Regions from separate parts of the Homo sapiens genome. Here region 1 is linked to region 2. Evidence: fine-mapped expression QTL. Tissue or cell type: whole blood. Region 2 holds a variant in brackets; the other region holds the start of a gene. All regions are shown on one strand. Distances are between the middles of the regions.

The links. PIP is the estimated chance that this variant, and not a neighbour inherited with it, causes the effect.
Region 1: SAMHD1 starts here. The variant in region 2 is fine-mapped to the expression of SAMHD1 in whole blood (TOPMed, PIP above 0.99).

The regions. Positions count from the first base shown.
Region 1 is chr20:36,947,320-36,955,422 of GRCh38, reverse strand. It overlaps SAMHD1 (SAM and HD domain containing deoxynucleoside triphosphate triphosphohydrolase 1), which reads left to right and starts at 3,715. Exons shown (of 16, transcript NM_015474.4): 1 at 3,715-3,987. The coding sequence starts at 3,780. RefSeq lists a silencer at 4,001-4,220 and an enhancer at 7,813-8,103.
Region 2 is chr20:36,917,083-36,925,185 of GRCh38, reverse strand. SAMHD1 (SAM and HD domain containing deoxynucleoside triphosphate triphosphohydrolase 1) reads left to right here. Exons shown (of 16, transcript NM_015474.4): 7 at 5,667-5,822. Among named protein-coding and RNA genes, the nearest start is that of SAMHD1, 31 kb to the left of the region's middle. The variant G/T (reference allele first, on the strand shown) is at 3,802.

The sequences.
Region 1 (8,103 bases), 30 kb before region 2:
GCTGGGTGGAAGGTAAATAGATAAGGTCAGGGAAAGCTTGCTGGGCTTATTCAAGGTCATTGGGCAGTGGGCCTTAAATTAATTGATCTTATTGTTTTTTCTAGTCCTAACCATACTGAGATTGACTTTAGAAGAGGGCAGCTTGAGCAGTCATTTCTCTCACTATGGCCAGAGTCCAGGGCCTGTGTCCAGTGGGTGTTGGTTCCCAGGCTGTGGAATTATGATGGAAAAGGATCGTTAGGACTGTAAGAGGAGTTAAATGAAGTGGCAAACTGGAAAGAGCCTATACTTTGGAGCGAGGGAGCACTGCCTTTGAATCCTCTCTCTGTCCCTTACCAGCCATGTTGACCCTGAACAAGTAACTAATGACCTAGCGCAAGATCAAAGGCCCCTTGAAAGTAGGGAATTAGGGAAAATATAATAAGTATGGCAATAAATTATACTTTTTAACAAACAAAAACAGAAAATAAAAGTTCTGGATGGGTGCGGTGGCTCATGCCTGTAATCTGAGCACTTTGGGAGGCCAAGGCACTTGAGGTCAGGAGTTCACTGATCACTTGAGGTCAGGAGTTCAAAGCCAGCCTGGCCAACATGGTGAAACCCCGTCTCTACTAAAAATACAAAAAAATTAGTTGGGCGTCGTGGCGGGTGCCTATAATCCCAGCTACTCAGGAGGCTGAGGCAGGAGAATCGCTTGAACCCGGGAGGCAGAGGTTTGCAGTGAGCCCAGATTGCACCACTGCACTCCACCCTGGGCCACAGAGCAAGACTCTGTCTCAAAAAAAATTAAAATTAAAATTAAAATAAAAAAATGAAATTAAAAAACTAAAAATTCTTAAAAGCAGCTGCTTTGAACAAACACAGTTGATTAAACTAAAAACCCTGCTATAACACCTTCTATTGTCCAGGAAACCTTGATGTCAGGGCAGGTTTCCCCACAGGTCTTATAAACACAAGTTTTTAAATCAGCCATTTCTGACTTGAGATTAAGTCTTTCATACATATGCTATTTGTTTTCTTATCCCGTTTTGGTTTCGCAAGTCTTGGCAACTGTCAGGTCTTTTCACAAAGTTCTCTAGTGTTTGAGGGCATTTTTTTGGGGGGCCTGGCCTTGTGTGCAGATGGAAAACAACTCTTTTTTTTTTTTTTTTTTTGAGATAGAGTTTCACTTTTGTCTCCCAGGCTATGGCTCACTTCAACCTCCACCTCCCAGGTTCAAGCGATTCTCCTGCCTCAGCCTCCTGAGTAGCTGGGATTACAGGCGGCTGCCACCACGCCCGGCTAATTTTTTTTTTTTTTTTTTTGAGACGGAGTCTCGCTCTGTTGCCCAGGCTGGAGTGCAGTGGCGCGATCCAAGCTCACTGCAACCTCCGCCTCCCAGGTTCAAGCAATTCTCTGCCTCAGCCTCTCAAGTAGCTGGGATTACAGGTGCCTGCTACGATGCCCAGCTAATTGTTTTGTATTTTTAGTAGAGACGGGTTTCATCATGTTGGCCAGACTAGTCTTGAACTCCTGACCTTGTGATCCACCCGCCTCGGCCTCCCAAAGTGCTGGGATTACAGGTGACAGCTACTGCGCCTGGCCACCCAGCTAATTTTTGTAATTTTAGTAGAGACAGGGTTTTGCCATGTTGGCCAGGCTGGTCTCGAACTCCTGACCTCAGGTGATCCACCCGCCTCGGCCTCCCAAAGTGCTGGGATTACAGACGTGAGCCACTGCGCCTGGCAGGAACACCTTTATACTTTCCTCCATGGGTCTGCAGGAAAAGGGAGCCATTGAAAATTGTGGGTTAAATAATAGAAAATAGTTTTATATCAAAACCCCCTTTACTTATTTATTTATTTTTTATTATTATTATTTTTGAAACAGAGTCTTGCTCTGTTGCCCAGGCTGGAGTGCAACGGGAAGATCTTGGCTCACTGCAACCTACACCTCCCACATTTGAGTGATTCTCGTGCCCCCGCCTCCTGAGTAGCTGGGATTACAGGCATGCACCACCAGGCCTGGCTAATTTTTGTATTTTAGTAGAGATGGGGTTTCACCATGTTGGCCAGGTTGGCCTTGAACTCCTGGCCTCAAGTGAGTGCTCTGGCCTCCCAAAGTGCTGGGATTACAGGCATGAGCCACTGCACCCAGCCCCAAACCCCCTTTAACAAGCAGTGGTTGGCAAGTTATCAAGACCATGGACTTTGGAACCAAGTTACATCTCTTGGGTTTGAATACAGGCTTCATCATTTCCTAGCTGTAAGACCTTGGGCAGCTGGGTACGGCTGTGTAATCCCAGCACTTTGGGAGGCTGAGGTGTGGGAATCACCTGAGGTCAGGAGTTCAAGACCAGCCTGGCCAACATGGTGAAATCCTGTCTCTACTAAAAATACAAAAATTAGCCAGGTGTGGTGGCAGGCGCCTGTAGTCCCAGCTACTTGGGAGTCTGAGGCATGAGAATCACTTGAACCTGGGAGGCAGAGGTTGCAGTGAGCTGAGATCACGCCACTGCACTCCAGCTTGGGAAACAGAGCAAGACTCCGTCTCAAAAAAAAAAAAGAAGACCTGCGGCAAATTACTTTTTCCTACATCCTAAGGTAATTGTGATAATTAAGTGAAGTAATATGTGTAGAGCCCTTAGAACTTTACAATATTTGTAAAACCCTTAGAAGTTATAAAAATTATTTAATATTTAAATAATTTAATGAATGTACTTAATTCATTTAGTATTATGTATAAATATAAAATTATTTTATATTTGTAAAGCCCTTAGAACCGTGCCTGGCACACAGTAAAGCTCTGTTTGCAAATAATATTTTGGCTCACCAGTAGACCACTAGTTCATACTGCTTGATGATAAGCTATTCCGCCTCATTCGTCCTTGACCCCCTAAACAGGTCTATGCCTTGGTTGCTGGGAAGGTGTGTTGGCTTTATTAACAGTAATAGTGATATGTCCTTTTACCAGGCAATTGCATGGACCAGTATTTATAGGGAAGTTTGAGCCCTGCCGCAGAGGGGTTAAGTGATGGGAAAATGCCTGCCATTTTCACATGCTGTTACAACCAGGCAGTAAAAGTCCTCAGAAGTTAAATTTTAAGTAATCAGACTGGCCACTTTCCTTCCTCTGGGAATGCAGTTGGGATGGAGGGCTCTGTCTCTAGTTGGAAAGAAGTCTGAAGTCCCCTCCTGTGTGGACACCAGACAACAGGTATCCCAGGGCCCTCTAGTTGACCAGCAATACTGTGGAATGAAGACACCCTCAAGTCACATTTGAAATCATTCCGGGTTCTTCCAGTTCAGCACCTTGACTGTTTTCCTCTTCACTGGGAAGGTGCTGGCAGCCTGACGGCCTTTTAGGCTTCTTTTAAGTTTGGGGCATCTGAAACCCGGCCAAGGTGCGGCGGGTAGTGTACTCATTCGAAGGAGAATACCCCCAATTCACTAGACGAGCCCCTAATTGGGGGTGCGGTGCCGGGCGCGCTCTTTCCTCCCCCTTTCCACCAGCACTGCCCTCAGTTCTGCTTCTAGCCACGCCCTTTCGCGTTCACGTCCAGCGCCCTGGCGGGATTGATTTGAGGACGACTGGACTGCCATTGCGCCTGCGCAGGGAGCCCAAGGCAAGAGCCGCTAGGCTGCCCTGCCCGAAGGGCTCAACTGTCAGTGAGCCTGCGCAGGAGGCCAATAGGCTGCCAATACTCCTTGGACTCCCCGCCAGGGCCCTGCTGTCAGTGCGCCTGCGCGCGGGTCCGGCGCCGAGGTTCTTGACTGCTGTGCCGGACGCCAGGTGTAGCCATGCAGCGAGCCGATTCCGAGCAGCCCTCCAAGCGTCCCCGTTGCGATGACAGCCCGAGAACCCCCTCAAACACCCCTTCCGCAGAGGCAGACTGGTCCCCGGGCCTGGAACTCCATCCCGACTACAAGACATGGGGTCCGGAGCAGGTGTGCTCCTTCCTCAGGCGCGGTGGCTTTGAAGAGCCGGTGCTGCTGAAGAACATCCGAGGTAGCGGCTCCGGAGGGGCTGAGGGGCGAAGGGCGGCGACCTGGGGCGCGGGCCAGGCGCCCTGAGGGAGGGGGCCCCACGAGAGGACCGAGGCCGAGGAGCGAGCCCTGCGGCGGGAGGCACCCGGGAGGGCGGACCTGCGCTGGGGGCGCCGAGGAAAGGAAGACCCGAGGCGGGGGAGGGAGCCCTGCGGCGGGGGTTCCCAGGAGGGCCTGCGGCATGGGGCTCCCGGGACTGACTCCCCGAGGCGGAGGAAGAAGACATGGGGTCGCCTGGGATAGGCGATTCGTAGGATGGGAGCAGGCTCCCGGGATTGAGGACCTGGGAGGGGCAGTCGTAGATTGGGATCTCACTCTCGTGGGTTTCTTCACTAACTTGCCACCCCGGCGCGGGACAAGCGAGACTCGGGTCCCTTTTTTTTAGTTAGAAGGAGATTTTTCCCCAGACCTTGGTGGGCGGCTTGCTGTCATCCAGGCTCGCGGGACCCCTCCGCGCTAACCGCAGCTCCTTGAACACTTGCCACATCAGAGGATGTTCTGGGGCTTTTAGGTTTCGGTTTCCTCCCTGAATTGAGGCTTTTCCTGAAGGGGAAGGAACTGGCTTGGTTAATCTCTGAATTCCCATCACCTTCCTTGGCATCCCAGCAGCGCCCGATAGGCGTGTGTTGACTGCACTTGCAGAACATGGTAAGGAACATGTTTTGCTCTTTAAAAGCAGGTTCCCCTCCAAAATCTGAACCTTGGGGTTGTTCAGTTGACCACTGAATCCCCAGCATGCCACAGTTTGGCCACATCCCCTGGAGAAGTGTTTAGGTTGAGTTTTAATCATATTTTACTGATTCGTATCCAAGCATCCATCCTTGTGAATTCTACTCAACTTTTTGTGGTGGGTGTGAGATTTGACTCCTGCCTTATATCCTCTAGGTGTCCAATAGGAAGGTGATTCTTTGGTGGTTGGGATTTGCAAATTTAGTAAATTTTTGCATTTGTTAGGTGGGGCCCTGTTTGGCTAGGTTGGAAACTGGGGTAGGAGGAACATTAGTGGTTCAGGACCCAAAGATAGCTTGAATGGGTATGGGAAATTGCATTTCTCCTTTTTTTTTTTTCTTCCCCCTTTTGCCCTTTCGTTTCCCTCCACTGCTGGGATGGATTATTACTTTATTTTCTTTGACTAGCAACAAGTGGAGTGAAGTAGTTCCATATTTTCTGTCTCAAAATGTGGTTGGCTCTCTGTTTCAGTGGTTTGTAGATTAACTCGTTACCCTCCAGAATGATGTGTGTTCCTTAAACCTACAACCTATTGCTATCAAAGACACTATGTGCTTTCATTTGGTAAAAACTGACCAACTGTTCCCAATTGCTCATGTCTTAGCTTCTGCTTTGTCTTGACCAAACTTTATTCGGACTTCTCTCTTCCCTTATGGGCCCCTCAACTCTTGCTTACCCCCAGATCTGACCAGGCAGGCACTAAAGCAGTGGAATATGCCTCCCTCTGGTCAGTTTCTTTTGAGAACCGGCTGACCACAGTAGGATGCTGTCCTGTTGGGCTACACTGCTCATTTTCCCTTGCTCGTCCAGGTTCCTATCCAAAGATTCTGCTTATTTCTGCTTGCCCGTCCTTTATCATATAAAAGAAGACCCTTTTTCTGTTGGATTCTTTTTTTTTTTTTTTTTTTTTTTTGAGACAGAGTCTCGCTCTGTCGCCAGGCTGGAGTGCAGTGGCGCCATCTCGGCCCAGTGCAACCTCTAACTGCCTGGTTCAAGCTATTCTCCTGCCTCAGCCTCCCGAGTAGCTGGGATTACAGGCATGTGCCACCACGCCCAGCTAATTTTTTTGTATTTTTAGTAGAGATGGGGTTTCACCATGTTGGCCAGGATGGTCTCCATCTCCTGAACTCGTGATCCGCCTGCCTCAGCCTCCCAAAGTGCTGGGATTACAGGCGTGAGCCACCGCGCCCGGCCTCATTTTTTTTTTTTTTTTAATTAGAGACAGGGTTTTGCCATGTTGGCCAGGCTGGTCTCAAACTCTTGGCTTCGAGTGACCATCCACCCACCTCGGCCTCCTAAAGTGCTGGGATTACAAGTGTGAGCCACCATGCCCAACCTCTGTTTGGTTCTTGGGCCTCTGTTTGATTATTTTTTAAAATTTATTTTATTATTTTATTTTTTTTCTGAGATGGAGTCTCGCTCTGTCACGCAGGCTGAAGTGCACCGGCACAATCTCAGCTCACTGCAACCTCTGCCTCTCGGGTTCAAGTGGTTCTCCTGCCTCAGCCTCCCTAGTTGCTGGGATTACAGGTGCACGCCACCACGCCTGGCTAATTTTGTGTTTTTAGTAAAGACAGGGTTTCACCATGTTGGCCAGGCTGGTCTCCAACTCCTGTCCTCAGGTGATGCATCCGCCTCTGCCTCCCAAAGTGCTGGGATTACAGGCGTGAGCCACCGCGCCCGGCCGGCCTATGTGTTTGATTCCTGAGCCTCTTGCAGATATCTGATATTGGAGCTTTCTCCCTGTAGAAATAGTCTTTCTTCTTTTCTTTTCTTTTTTTCTTTTCTTTTTTTTTTTTTTTTGAGACAGAGTCTCGCTCTGTCGCCAGGCTGAAATGCAGTGGTGTGATCTCGGCTCACTGTAACCTCTGCCTCCCGGGTTCAAGCAATTCTCCTGCCTCAGCCTCCTGAGTAGCTGTGACTACAGGTGCCCACCACCACACCTGGCTAATTTTTGTATTTTTAGTAGAGATGGGGTTTCACCATGTTGGCCAGGATGGTCTTAATCTCTTGACCTGATGATTCACACGCCTTGGCCTCCCAAAGTGCTGGGATTACAGGTGTGAGCCACCACGCCCGACCAGCAATAGTCTTTCTTTCTAATAAAGTTTCTCTTGGCCGGGCACGGTGGCTCACGCCTGTAATCCCAGCACTTTGGAAGGCCGAAGCAGGTAGATCACCTGAGGTCAGGAATTCAAGCCCAGCCTGGCCAACATGGTGAAACACCGTCTCTACTAAAAATACAAAAATTAGCCGGGCATGGTGGTATGTGCCTGTAGTCCCAGCTACTTGGGAAGCTGAGGCAGGAGAATCACTTGAACCTGGGAGGCGGAGGTTGCAGTGAGCCAAGATCCCGCCACTGCACTCCAGCCTGGGCGACCGAGTGAGACTCCATCTCGGAAAAGAAAAAAAAAGTCTCTCTTTATCTAAGTCCATTTTTTTTTTAATTTGATAAGCCAAGCACAAGGTACAGTGTCCCTTTTCTCATTATGGAATACAGCCTCACAAGAAGTCTGAAATAAGTTACTACACTCAACACATTTTACCGATGATGTATGCGAGGTCCAAAGATGTAAAGTAACTTTTCAGAGATCACACCACTACAAAAAAGAGCTAGATTTTTTAAGGTTAGGTCTTTGGACTCTAGAACTCATGTGATCTATACCTTAACAAGTATTCTCATCAAAAACCACTGGAGGCCTGGCCCAGTGGCTCATACCTATAATCCCAGCACTTTGGGAGGCCAGTGTGGGAAGATCACTTGAGCCCAAGAATTCAAGACCAGCCTGGGCAACATCAGGAGACCTCAACTTTACAAAAAATAAAAATAAAAATTAGCTAGGTGCAGTGGCACATGCCTGTGGTCCCAGCTACTCAGGAGGCTGAGGCAGGAGGATCGCTTGAGCCCAGGAGGTCAAGGCTGCAGTGAGATGTGATCGCACCACTGCACTCCAACCTGGGCAACAAGCAAAACCCTGTCTCAAAGAAAATAAAAGAAAATAGTCCAGAGTTCTGGAATTTGAGGTCAGGAAAGATTAGAATTAATTGTATAGAAAGAGAAAGGAAAAAACCCAACAACACACACACACACACACACACACACACACACACACACACCCCTCTTCCAAATCAGAGTATTGAGTGCTTTCCCAGGACACACACACACACACACACACTCACACACACACACACCTCTTCCAAATCAGAGTATTGAGTGCTTTCCCAGGACACACACACACACACACACACACACACACACACACCTCTTCCAAATCACACACACCTCTTCCAAATCAGAGTATTGAGTGCTTTCCCAGGACACACACACACACACACACACACACACACA
Region 2 (8,103 bases):
AAATCTTTTTTTTTCTTTTTTTTTTTTTTTGAGATGGAGTCTCACTCTGTTGCCCAGGCTGGAGTGCAGTGGTGCGATCTTGGCTCACTGCAACCTCCACCTCCTGGGTTCAAGCGAGTCTCCTGCCTCAGCCTCCTGAATAGCTGGGATTACAGGCATGTGCTACCACACCTGGCTGACTTTTGTATTTTTAGTAGAGATGGCTTTCACCATGTTGGTTAGGCTGGTCTCGAACTCCTGATCTCATGATCCACCCACATCGGCCTCCCAAAGCGCTGGGATTACAGACGTGAGCCACCGTGCCCGGCCGAGAAATCTAATTTTTTAATAGTTCATCCTATCCCCACTGACTGTAATACCAACCCCAACATTTATTAACTTCCCATATATGATGAATCATTCTGCATTCTGTTCTGTTTCCACACTTGTTACTTGGGGAAGAAAAAAAAAGAAGAAAAGAAATTTTTATCTGAGAAATATGAGCCCCTTTACATTATCAGGCCCAGAGAGGCATTGAAATAGAACAGCAATCATGTCACGCCCCCTTGAGCTAAATAATTATTATCTCTTGAAGCCAGCTGTTATGTGGGATGCCAGGTAACCATAAAATGCCATATATCCTGTACTTCATAATATGTAGCCAATCACTAACTAATGTTATTTCTGTAAGCCAGTGAACATTCCTGACTAACAACTTTTGTTATCACCTCCTCTTTGTGATCACCTCCTCCTCCTGATTTATGCTCTTTTCTTTTTTTTTCTTTTCTCTCCCTTCTGTCTCTGTCTCTCTTTTTCTCTTTCTCACTTTCTTTCTTTCTCATTCTTTCTCTTTTTCCCTTCCTTCCTTCCTTTCCTTCCTTTCTTTCCCTTCCTTCCCTTCTTTCCCTTCCTTTTCTTTCCCCTTCCCCCTTCCCTCCTTTCCCCTCCCCTCCCCTCAACAGGATCTTGCTTTGTCACCCAGGGTGGAGTGCAGTGGTGCAAACATGGCTTACTGCAACCTCGACTTCCAAGGCTCAAGCAATTCTCCCACTTCATCCTCCAGAGTAGCTGGGACTACAGGCACACACTACCATGCCCAGCTAATTTTTTATATTTTTTGTAGAGGGAGTGGGCCTCACTTTGTTACCCAGACTGGTCTCAACTCCCGAGCTCAAGCTATCTGCCCCGCTTGGCCTCCTAAAGTGCTGAGATTACAGGCCTAAGCCACCACACCTGGCCAGTCCTTTTTTGTTTAAAAACTTGAGCCTCTTTTGTTCTCCCCAAGCATTCCCCAAGGCAATTTGTAAATGTGTCCTCAACCTTGGCCCAAATAAACTCTCTATATTAAATATTTCTCAGCTCCTTCCTTTTAGGTTGACATACTTTATAATAAGATTTATGTTTTTATTTTTTCCTTTCTGTGGAGAACAGAGTCTTACTATGTTGCCCAGGCTGGTCTTGACCTCCAGACTCAAGCGATCCTTCCATCTCAGCCTCCCAAGTAGCTGGGGCCACAGGCCTGCACCGTCACACCTGGGTATTTATTTGTAGAGATGGAGTCTTACTATGTTGCCTAGGCTTGCCATGAAAGTCATACATCTTTGTTATACTTACTCCTAAGTTCCTTATAATTTTAGTTGTTATTATGGTCTGTGCTAGCTTTATGAAACTTAATTTTTTCTGTTTGCTAGTATATTCACAGTTGGCATTGATATATTTAAAACTACTATTTTGAAAATCCCTTACTTTATTTATTTATTTATTTATTTTTATTTTATTGTTTTTGAGAGAGGGTCTTGCCCTGTCACCCGGGCAGGAGCTCAGTGATGTCATCTAAGCTCACTGCAACCTCTGCCTCCCAGGGTCAAGTGATCCACCTCATTTTTATTTTTTAAAATACTCTCTCTTGGCCAGGCGTGGTGGCTCGCGCCTGTAATCTGAGCACTTTGGGAGGCCAAGGTGGGCGGATCACAAGGTCAGAAGATTGAGACCATCCTGGCTAACGGTGAAATCCCGTCTCTACTAAAAATACAAAAAAATTGGCTGGGTGTGGTGGCAGGCACCTGTAGTCCCAGCTACTCAGGAGGCTGAGGCAGGAGAATGGCGTGAACCCAGGAGGCGGAGCTTGCAGTGAGCTGAAATCACGCCACTGCACTCCAGCCTGGGTGACAGAGTGAGACACTGTGTCAAAAAATAAATAAAATACTCTCTCTTTATATATAGATATTTTTTTTCTGAATCATTAGAAAGTAAGTTTTGACCAGGCACAGTGGCTCATGGTTGTAATATCAACATTTTGGGAGGCCAAGGTGGGCAGATCGCTTGAGCCCAGGAGTTCAAGACCAGCCTGGACAACATGGTGAAACCCCGTCTCTACAAAAAAATTTAAAAATTAGCCAGGCATGGTGGGGTGGCAGGATTGCTTGAGCCTGGGAGGTCGAGGCTGCAATGAGCTGTGATCGTGCTACTGCACTCCAACGTAGGTAACAGAGTGAGAACTTGTCTCAAAAAAAGAAAGTTAGTTTTTAGACTGGACACAGTGGCTTACACCTGTAATCCCAACAGTTTGGGAGGCTAAGGCAGGAGGATAGCTTTGAGCCCAGGAGTTCAACACCAGCCTGGGCAACATAGTGAAACTGTCTCTACAAAATTATGAAAACATCAGCTGGTCATTGTGGTGCACACCTGTGGTCCTAGCTACTGAGAACGGGAGGATTACTTGAATCCAGGAGTTCAGGGATACACTGAGCTATGAATATGCCACTGAGCTCCAGCCTGGGTGATAGAGCAAGAGCCCTGTCTCTCAAAGAATGTAAATTGTTGAAATACTTTATTTCTAAATACTTCAGTGGGTATTTCCTAAAAACAACATTTTCTTATATAACCATAGTATAATTATCAAAATCAGTAAATTAATGTTGATGCAGTACTCTTATCTAATTCAGACTTTCAAATTTTACCAATTGTCCATATAGAAAAAGGGGAAAAAAACTTTTTTTCCCTGGTCCAGAATTACACATTGCATTTAGTTGCCATTTTTCTAGTTTCTTTTGATCTGGAGCAATTCTTCAGTCTTTATCGTTAGTGACTTTGTCATTTTTTTAAAGAGCAACTGAGCTATTTTGTGGAATGTTCCTCAATTTGAGTTTCAGTGTGATGTTTCCTCATGGATTCAAGCTATGCATTTTTGGTAGAATGCCACAAAAGTGATGTGTCCAGATCGGACGCAGTGGCTCACATCTGTAATCCCAGCACTTTGGGAGGCCAAGGTGGGTGGATTACCTGAGGTCAGAAGTTGGAGACCAGCCTGGCCAATATGGCGAAACCCTGTCTCTACTAAAAATATAAAAATTATCTGGGCATGGTGGTGGGCACCTGTAATCCCAGCTACTCGGGAGGCTGAGGCAGGAGAATCACCTGAACCTGGGAGGCGGAGGTTGCAGTGAGCCAAGATCACGCCATTTCACTCCAGCCTGGGCAACAAGAGGGAAAAAAAAAAAAAACAACCACAAAAAATTAGCTGGGTGTGGTGGCACGTGCCTACTTGGGAGGCTGAGGAAGGAGAATTGCTTGAGCCCGGGAGCCCAGGAGGTGACAGAGCTAGACTCTGTCTCCAAAAAAATCAGTGATGCATCCTTCATAGTGTATCATCTCAGGAGGCACATAAATCCTAGTTGAGCCAATACCAATGATATTAATTCTGCTTACTTGATTAAGGCATTGTCTGTCAAATCTCTCCATTATAAAGTTACTATTTTTCCTCTTTGTAATTACGTATATCTTGATTCAATTCGTTTTTTTTTTTTTTTTTTTTGAGACAGA[G/T]TCTCGCTGTGTCGCCCAGCCTGTAGTGCAGTGGCGTGATCTCGGCTCACTGCAACCTCCGCCTCCCGAGTTCAAGCGTTTCTCCTGCTTCAGCCTCCTGAGTAGCTGGGACTACAGGTGCATGCCACCACACCCAGCTAATTTTTATATTTTTAGTAGAGATGGGGTGTCACCATGTTGGCCAGTATGATCTTGATCTCCTGACCTCGTGATCTGCCTGCCTCCGCCTCCTAAAGTGCTGGGATTACAGGCGTGAGCTACTGTGCCCGGCCAATTTGTTTGTTGTTGTTGTTGTTTTTTGGAGACAAGGTCTTGCTCTGTTGCCCAGGCTGGAGTACAGGCATGAACATAGCTAACTGCAGCCTCAACCACCTGGGCTCAAGCAATCCTCCCACCTTGGTCTCCCAAGTAGCTGGGACCACAGGCGCATGTCACTATACCCAGCCAATCTTTTTATCTTTTTGTAGAGACAGGGTCTTGCTTTGTTGCCCAGGCTGCTCTCGAACTCCTGGGCTCAAGCAATCCTCCCACCTTTGCCTCTCAAAAAAATGCTAGGATTACAAATGTGAGCCACTGCACCCAGCCTGATTCTGTTTTTGTGGGTTTTTTTTTTTTTCTTTTGAAACAGAGTGTCACTTTGTTGCCCACCCAGGCTGGAGTGCAGGGCGATCTCGGCTCACTGCAACCTCCACCTCCTGGGTTCAAGTGATTGTCCTGCCTCAGTCCCCCAAGTAGCTGGGATTATAGGTGCACCCTACCATGCCTGGCTAATTTTTGTATTTTTTAGTAGACAGGAGGTTTTGCCATGTTGGCCAAACTTGTACTGTTGACCTCAAGTGATCCGCCCACCTCGGCCTCCCAAAACGCTGGGATTACAGGTGTGAGCCACCGCACCCAGGCCTGACAGCCCTGATTCTGTTTTTAAGAATAGTTTCTGGAGCAAGAATTGTTTCTGCGGGGGCGGGGAAAGAATAGTTATAGGGCAAGTTGCTTGTAATCCTGCCACTTTGGGAGGCTGAGACAGGAGGATTATTTGAGCCTAGGAGTTCAAGACCAACCTGGTCAACAAATCAAGACCCTGCCTCTACAAAAAAATCTAAAAATTAGCTGGGTAGGGTGGTGTGCACCTGTGGTTTCAGCTACTCGGGAGGCTGAAGTGGGAGGATCACTTGAGCCCAGGAGTTCAAGACTACAGTGACCCCATGATCACATCACTGGACTCTAGCCAGGGCAACAGAGCAATTCCCTGTCTCTTTTTTTAAAAAAATATAGTTATAGGATAATTCAGGTTTTGTTTTTCATCTTGAGTTAGTTTTTGGTAGGATCTAGGAAAGGGCAGATGTCTTCAGGAGTTCATTTGATCCTTTACATTGATTGTGAATGAGTGAGCAGAGAGAGATGAGCAAACAGGCCAATTGGAGATTTCAAGGGAGATCTTTGTTTTTACTGGCAAGTTTGCAGTTACCCCTTTTCACCACTAGATGGTAGTGCCTAACAGAGCTTATAACTGCACGTGTTCAAAGGCTGATGAAAAAATAAAATTCAATTTTATGATGATATTTATTAAAATGTAATTCTGTCTACATGATCTTATAATATTCATTTAGGAACTGTAAATGATTATATCATTAAATGCATTAAATATGTTTATGAAATAAGTTTTGTAAAAGGTTTGTAGACTACTAGTAAAATGAAAAATCTGACAGGTTTTTAAAAATGTTCCTAAGATTGTGGTTAGAAACTAGAGAATTAATATGCAATAGACCTTTATCTCAGAATTACTTGGAATTGAGGATAATTTTGTTAGTCAGGGCTCCCAATGGGCTAGAATCTTTAACACATCATATTGTGCTTACTTTTCCTAGCATGAACAAGGCTCAGTTATGATGTTTGAGCACCTTATTAATTCTAATGGAATTAAGCCTGTCATGGAACAATATGGTCTCATCCCTGAAGAAGATATTTGCTTTATAAAGGAACAAATTGTAGGACCACTTGAATCACCTGTCGAAGATTCATTGGTAAGTTTATGTACAGCTTAATTTTAACTGACTGGTGCTTTTCATCTAGCCTTTTCATGATTCCTTCTGAGTTATACATTTGGCTATTTTAGAGGCTAAATGATAAAATATGAGTTCTATGTTTCTACTGTTTAATGCAAAAAATAAAAGGCTTATATTTTTTTCTACCTCTCAACTGAATTAGTTAGAAGTTACTTCCCAAAAATATATATACAGAAATTCTTTTTAGAGACAGGGTCTTACTCTGTCACACAGGCTGGAGTGCAGTGGCACAATCTCAGCTCACTGCAACTTCCACCTCCCAGGCTCAAGCGATCCTCCTACCTCAGCCTCCTGAGTAGCTGGGACCACAAACGTGCACTACCATGCCCAGCTAATTTTTGTATTTTTTGTAGAGATGGGGTTTTGTCACGTTGCCCAGGTTAGTCTTGAAATCCTGAGCTCAAGTGATCTGCCCAGCTCTGCCTCTGAAAGTGCTGGGATTACAGGTGTGAGCCACTGTGCTTGGCATAAATTCTTTTCTTTTCTTTCTTTCTTTCTTTTTTTTTTTTTTTTTTTTTTTGAGATAGAGTCTTACTGTGTTGGCCAGGCTGGAGTACAGTGGCATGATCTCAGCGCAGTGCAACCTCTGTCTCCCAGGCTCAAGCAATTCTTCTGCTTCAGCCTCCTGAGTAGCTGGGATTACAGGTGTGTGCCACCACGCCCGGCAAATCTTTGTATTTTTAGTAGAGACGGGGTTTCACCATGTTGCCCAGGCTGGTCTCAAACTCCTGACCTCAGGTGATCCACCCGCCTCAGCCTCCCAAAGTGGTGGGATTACAAGCGTGAGCCGCCACCGCGCCCGGCCATAAATTCTTTTTTAGTGAATATATATGCAGTATTTTATTCATTAAAAAAAATTTTTTTTTTTGGAGATGTGGTCTCACTATGTTGCCTAAGCTGGTTTCGAACTCCTGGGCTCAAGTGATTCTCCCACTTTGGCCTCCCAAAATACTGGGATTGCAGGCGTGAGCCACCATACCTGGCCTGCAGTATTTTATATAGAAGCCTAAAGTAACTTTGTTTGGAATGTAAATGTGTATGTTTTATTTAACCATTAAAATGAACATATTTGGCCAGGCTCAGTGACTCATGCCTGTAATCCCAGCACTTTGGGAGGCCATGATGGGAGGATCACTTGAGCCCAGGAGTTTGAGATCAGCCTGGGTAATACTGAAACCCTGTCTCATGCCTGTAGTCTCAGATGCTTGGGAGGCTGAGGCAGGCTGCAGTGATCTGTGATTGTGCAACTGCACTCCAGCCTGGGCAACAGAGCTAGATCCTGTCTACAAATTTAAAAAAAAATCATATTTGAAATATTTATAGGAAGATCTACAAAAAAGTTGAACCAGTTCAATGGAAAATCTGTTTTGTTTCCTTTTTGATCTTTTGTATTTTTTTAATTAAAAATAAAGTTGGGAAATAATTTCCCCCTGAGATTTTTAGGGCTGTTTCCTCAAATATATACAAGTGTACTTACAGTATAAGATAAACAGATGAGTTTTGTAGCAAATATCCTATTTCCAAAAAAGTGGAGCTCAAAGAATACATTCAACAATGCATATTATTTAGACTAGGTATGTAGCTACTTTGAAAGATAGTACTGTTTTAATGCATGAATTCAAGCATTGTTAGTTTATTATTAGATTTTATATTATTTATTTATTTATTTTTGAGACGGTGTCTTGCTCTGTTGCCCAGGCTAGAGGGCAGTGGCACAACCTCAGGTCACTGCAACCTCCGCCTCCTGAGTTCAGGCGATTCTCCTGCCTCAGCCTCCTGAGTAGCTGGGAGTACAGGCACTTGCTACCATGCCCAACTAATTTTGTGTTTTTAGTAGAGACAGGGTTTCACCATCTTGGCCAAGCTGGTTTCAAACTCCAGACCTCGTGATCCGCCCTCCTCGGCCTCCCAAAGTGATGAGATTACAGGCGTGAGCCACCATGCCTGGCCTAGATTTTATATTTTTCAAAAACTTATAAACCAAGAAAACACAAAAGTTGTTGGTTTTGGGAAATGTAATAGAGTTCAGATCTTTTCAGTGGCACAAGAAAATGTGGTAACAATAGGGTATCATATACCTTAGCATTTCTTTTCCCTTTCTACTAGTTTTGAAATGAAGTGGAAGAAAGAAAGAATAGAACCTTCTAGTTTATCTCATATTCCCAGTCAGGTATCTGTTTATATTTTACAGATTAATAAAATTGCTTTGCTTTGTTTATAAATAGATTTGGTGCCTATC